Linked DNA regions of Homo sapiens: region 2 is linked to region 1. The links come from fine-mapping of genetic effects on gene expression. A gene starts in region 1. The other region holds a variant in brackets. All regions are shown on one strand. Distances are from middle to middle. Region 1 holds the start of ERICH2 (glutamate rich 2). Region 2 overlaps MYO3B (myosin IIIB).

The links.
Region 2: its variant is fine-mapped to the expression of ERICH2 in tibial artery (GTEx, PIP above 0.99). The same link has a PIP of 0.9 or more in aorta and coronary artery.

What each region holds. Positions count from the first base shown.
Region 1 is chr2:170,768,789-170,771,700 of GRCh38, forward strand. ERICH2 (glutamate rich 2) reads left to right here and starts at 1,590. Exons shown (of 10, transcript NM_001290030.2): 1 at 1,590-2,399. The coding sequence starts at 1,894. It overlaps ERICH2-DT (ERICH2 divergent transcript), which reads right to left and starts at 1,978. Exons shown (of 6, transcript NR_110185.1): 1 at 1,914-1,978. RefSeq lists silencers at 2,168-2,227, 2,548-2,687.
Region 2 is chr2:170,376,140-170,379,051 of GRCh38, forward strand. The region is part of intron 9 of MYO3B (myosin IIIB); the gene reads left to right. Among named protein-coding and RNA genes, the nearest start is that of MYO3B-AS1, 27 kb to the left of the region's middle. The variant C/G (reference allele first, on the strand shown) is at 1,586.

The DNA.
Region 1 (2,912 bases):
AGGCCCAAGGTGGAAGCCAGATCACTCTAACCACTCCTCGATGTGGAGAACATACTTTTATTCTCCAAGGTCATGAATCTTTTTTTTTTTTTAATACAGGGTCTCACTTTGTCGCCCAGGCTAGAATGCAGTGGCACAATCAAGGCTCACTACAGCTTCGACCCCCCCTTACCCCACCGCACCCGTGCCACTATGCCCAGTTAATTTTTTATATTTTTTTGTGGAGACAGCGTTTCGCCATGTTGCCCAAGCTGGTCTGAAACACCTGAGCTCAAGCGATCCGCACACCTCGGCCTCCCAAAGTGCTGGGATTGCCAGGTGCGGTGGCTCACGCCTGTAATCCCAGCACTTTGGGAGTCCGAGGCGGGCGGATCACGAGGTCAGGAGATCGAAACCATCCTGGCTAACACGGTGAAACCTCGTCTCTACTAAAAATACAAAAAAATTAGCCAGGCATGGTGGCGGGCGCCTGTAGTTCCAGCTACTCGGGAGGCTGAGGCAGGACAATGGCGTGAACCCGGGAGGCGGAACTTGCAGTGAGCCGTGATCGCGCCACTGCACTCCAGCCTGGGGGACAGAGGGAGACTCCGTCTCAAAAAAAAAAGTGCTGGGATTACAAGTGTGAGCCACCGTGCCCAGCCCATTAATCCATTTTTGCTCCCTTCAGGAGCAGTAAGTAAACTAAACACTGCATCCTACAAATGAACTTGAGCTTTTCTGTCAGGGGGAAGAATAGGTAGAGAAAGAAAGTTTAATCAAATTTGAGGTTTTCTTACACTTCCTTGTAGTGGATCAATGGGAATAACCAGTCAGCCATTATCCATTCATCAGTACTAAGCAAATTCAACAAAACTAATGTTTTCAAATGTGTTGATCAAGACATACCCTTGGCCTTGTTTAAATGAAAAGTCCTCAATCAAACAAGACATTTTCTATGTAAGGGTGTTCCTGTAATAGAGGAGGCAGTGGCCTGCTATGTCCTTATCAAACTAGGGATGTATTTGTCAATGACTCCATTGAGTTCTTTTCAAAAACTTCCATTCTGGCATTTTTCCTTTGCCTCCTACCTATCATCAAGGGCTCACAGGAGATTTAAAGAATGAATGTGAACAGATGACTAAGAGAATTAAAAAATGGCCACGTCTCTGTATTCTCTTGGTTCCGGAAATGGTCCAGCTGGTTCTATTTTTATTATAATAATAATAAAATTTGTTATTTATTAAGCATCTTCCACATGTCAGAGCTTTATACATTTTTATGTCATTTTAGCTTCACAACCATCTACCAAGGTACATATCCTCAGCGGGTAGCAACTCCAGAGATTAAATAGGGAGTACACCTGATATTATGTGTCTACCATGTGAAAGTCGAATCCAGATTTGAGTCCAACAAACACGCGTCCTTCAAAACACGTTGCCTAGCAACAAATTGATTCTAGTTACTTCCGGCATCCCAAGTGGAGAAAAATAACCAATTCCTTCCTAGAAGCCAAGCTTGAGGGACCTTTAGAATTCTGTAACAGAAAAGCTCCCCACCCCCTACTGTGACCCAAGCAGTTACTTAAACACTAATACCTCCCATTGGCCGGCGTGGCAGAGCAGCAGCTCTGGCGCTAGAGGGAACCTGGGCTGCTCTAGCTGGGGGAGAGCCGGGTCTCTGGTTCTAATCACTTGAATCTGACTTCTGGGAAAACTGGCGTCCAGGGACTCCCCCCGGAGACCCATAATCTTCTTGGGGCGACCTCAGGTTGGGGGACTAAGTCCTGCAGGGGACACTTGTTCATCCACTACCAGGGACACCCATCTCTCCCAACTCAAGACTTCTTTTTACTCCCCAAGTTTAAAACTCTGAGGCCACCCCGCCCCCTTCCCTCTCCCTCGCTTAGAATCAGGTATGGACACCGACATTCCAACCTTCTTTCCTTCTTCGGCGCTCCTGAAGGTAACCGGTGCGCGTGCGCACGTCAATCCGAGGGTGTGTGCGCCCAGTTTCCGGCGCCGCGGGACACCCACAACCGCGGGGCTGTCCCTCAGCTCGGCCGCCCGCCCCGCCCCGCCCCCCCGGACCCGCCTCCCAGCCCCGCCCCGGGCCCTCCTCGCCGCGCCCGCTCCGTCCCGCGCCCTCCACCGCCCTACGGCCTGGGCCCGCCTCCACCCTGCCTCTCCGTGGTTCCCCGGGCTGCCCCTGCCCCCGCCCCCGCCCCCGCCACCTCCCCCGCCGTCGCCCAATTCCCCCAGCCCCCACCCTCGGCTGCTGCCCGAGCTTCCTCCACGCGCCGTGCAGTCTCCACGGCGACGCTGCGTTCCCGACTCGGAGCCCCCAGCTCCGCGCGAGCAGCTAGCCGGGCTGGCTCTCGGTGTGTGCCCTTCGGATGGTCTGCTGAAGAGGGCCGCCAGCTGGTAAGACACTCCGAGGCAACGACCGGTCTCCCTCTCCCTAGCCCGGTGTGCAGTCTGACCCAGCCCCCACAGCAGACCACCCCCAGACCGGGCGCCCGAGTCTGCGGACCGCTCTACCGCACCTGGTTCTGGCTCTGGGCCCCGGGCCCCGTGGCTGCCAGGGGCCGCCGGGAAGGGAGGATGCGCGCCACTGGGGTGCGCCTGGCTTGCGGCACCCTCCTCCCGCAGTGGTCGGAAGAGGTGAGGAAGCGCCGTTCGTGTCTACACGGGTGTGGAGATAACTGGGCGATTCTGACAGGCTTGTCTACACTACCATTCTTTGACCGGCCGGTGCACACGCACCAACTCCTTCCCCGCAAATAACGAAGATGGCCCAGCCCATCCCAGGGCTTCCCGACCCCCTTCCCTCAGTCCTTGCCCTTGCCCGGAATTCTTTTACTTATTTTTGGAAAATTAGTTAAGACATCACTACTAGCTAGATATAACTTGCTAGCCATACAAATTTCGATGGAA
Region 2 (2,912 bases), 390 kb before region 1:
TATTTTAAAATTTATGCATTGTATTGTTTGAAAGACATAGCCTTAAGTTCAGGGTCAAGATACAGCTCATGTAGTTAAAGGTATCCAGCTGCTATCTCTGTCCATATTTGACTCTCAGTAGAATAATGTCATTCCTCAAAGGTCTGCTATTGTTTTTCTCGTTTGAGGTCCATTATTATATAGTTACGGTAAAATAAAAGTCCCTCTTTCATTGGCTCTGTTATCAAAGGGTATATTGAATGGAAATTAAGATTTAGAAGAAATATTCAACATCACTGACCTTGGTGTAGTAACAGTACTCTATTCTCAGTTTTGAGTAATGTTTTCTTTCTTGTATGGAATCCATTGAATGTAGTGATAAGGGAGTGATCCCTGAGTTCTCTCTATGGCCATGGAGGCTTTTGTCCTAGATTCTTGAGGACTGACATCTTTGAGCCTGCACCTTTTTCCTTATTCCCTCTCTCTATTTTTTTTTTTGCCTCTATCCGCAACAAATTTTACTTCCTTTTCCATCTGGAATCTGGTAACAGTGATAGTCATTCTCCACTTTTTGCAGTTCCACTCTTGGACGGAGGAGAGGGTTCTTATCCTGGGTGTGGAGGAGCAGAGGCAGAGGTGACCTTCACAATGGTGCTGACACAGGGTGACTCTCTAAGAAGCCAGCAGGCATTTCTCAGTGCAGAGATTAACTTCTTAGGAGTATATTGCTTGTTGTTATTATTATTAGGCTGAATTGATAAGCTAGAAGAATTTGTTTCCTTCTCATGTTTGAGTTATGATTTAGAGCACCTTTTTCTATTACTTGTTCTTCATCATAGTTGGGGAGTGAAAGGAAGAGCGTATCCTGTCTCACCTACGTGAAGTTCTTGCAGCTCTGTTTGTACCTACCTACATGGAAGCCTCCACTTCCATAGGCATAACTGGCAGACAGAAAGAGGCTAATTGATTAATGAGTCACTTTTGGGCAAAATATGTTTGTCAATATAGTTCATAGGACTAGCAGCTCAAACAAAGAAGCTAGCAGGCCCAGTGATGAGATATTAGAGAACAATGACACAGAAATGGTTTTAACCATAATGCAGATACAGAGATTAAACTAGAGTGAAAGCTGCAACACTTTAGGAGTTTATTTCATGAGAATAATTCTTCTAGTGTTTAAACCAGTTTGGTGTCCTCTAAAGCTCCTTTCCCACTCATTGGCTGGGCCAAAGATTTGAACAAAGACCCCCATCCTCTACCTCATCTATGCCCACTGTTGTCTTAGGGGAACTCCCAGCCTCTACCTCTGGCTCTGTCTTTCCCGTTCTTCAGATTCTATTCTTACGCTGCACTCATTTCCTTGGACTTGATGGTACAGACTTGCCCTCATTCCCACCCTACTTGATCCATGGATTCAGGCACCAGTTTCCCCTTTACCTGATCCCTGAAACCTAAGGCCCGTCCTGCTCTCCACAGTCTCCCGCTCCACTGCCACACCAAAAGCAAACTCCAGGAACCAGTCCAAGCCAAGACTTTCCCTCTAAGCTCCAACTCGCAAACTCTGTTTGTCTGAGAAGCCAGCCTTGGCAGCCAACATACTTACAAA[C/G]TCATAAAAACAAGTAGGAAATCTAAGAAAAGCAATATAAACTTTACTGGAATTTGAAAACGTCTTCTGAGCCATTAAAACTACAGTGCCTTACCACATACTTTTGATTTAGTAGAATGTTTTTTGCTGTTTATCCATTCATTTATCTATGTCTCCATTCCTCTGAGCTTTGGAATACTCGATCCAAGTAGCTTTTAGTTGGAGATCTGTAATTTTCACATTAAACGAGGAATTCTTCAGCAAAAATTGATAATAGGTCCTATTCTCAAGTAGGGCACTAGATGGAGCATGTGAATTTAAAGGAAATTAAGATCTATAGTTACTAATGACACAAATCACTTAACTCAATAAAATTAAAAAAATAAACCAAGTTTATTTTTATTAATTTCAACTAAAAATAGAGAAATATAAAACAACGTAACGCTTTTTATAAGCTTATGCAAAGTCTAGGAAAATGTTTTTAAAGGAGATAAAAATTGAAATAAATAATGCTTTTTCTCTACGATAGACCCTCCAAACCCCATAGCCAGAGGAGGAAAGTTAAGCGGGCAGCAGTTTCCAAAGAACACTAGTTGTGGAAGGCAGAAATAGTGCTACACATATATATATTTTTTCTGGTTGAGAAAACGAAGTGGTCTTTATCAGAGTAGAGAAGTCTTGCATCTACATCCACTTCTAGATTGCCTACTTCACTTTTAGGAGCAAATATTTCTAAAGAATTTGATCACCTGTAAGCATGGAAAGAGGCCACACATTGCTACTAATAGCAGTTAAAATTTTTAAAAAGTTATTTTTTGTTAATACAATATTATTGGGGAAGATTTTTTACAAGAATCAAGCTCAGATTTGCAGACAACATCTGCATGATTCTTGGAAGTTATATCTGTGAGACAGATTGGCATAGCACACAATCTCCTTCAGGCTCAGAAGATACCAATGTTGATCCTAGTGATATTGCATTGTGTATATTCACACTGAAAATTAAAACTTTCTACTAGACTGCATCTATTTGTGAGATTGCAAGTAAGGTTTGGTCCATGCTTCCATTTTTAGTTGGCTATAAAAATGTCATCCAATGTGAAGCTTGGCATTTCTGTATGCAGCTCAGGCTGCCATTAAATCCAGGTCAGGAGTTACTGAAGGAAAAAAAAGCCTGGAAAACTCACCATTGGTTCAGTGGTATTTTGAGTTCTGACTTCCTTCCCCAGTCTGCCTGTTACAATTTACTTCTCAGAGTCTTAAGATAGCTGCTCCATGCATTCTGACAAGGGTATTTAGTTGTCTTCAGTGAGGAGTGGAGAGGGCTTACTCCATCTTGACCAGAACC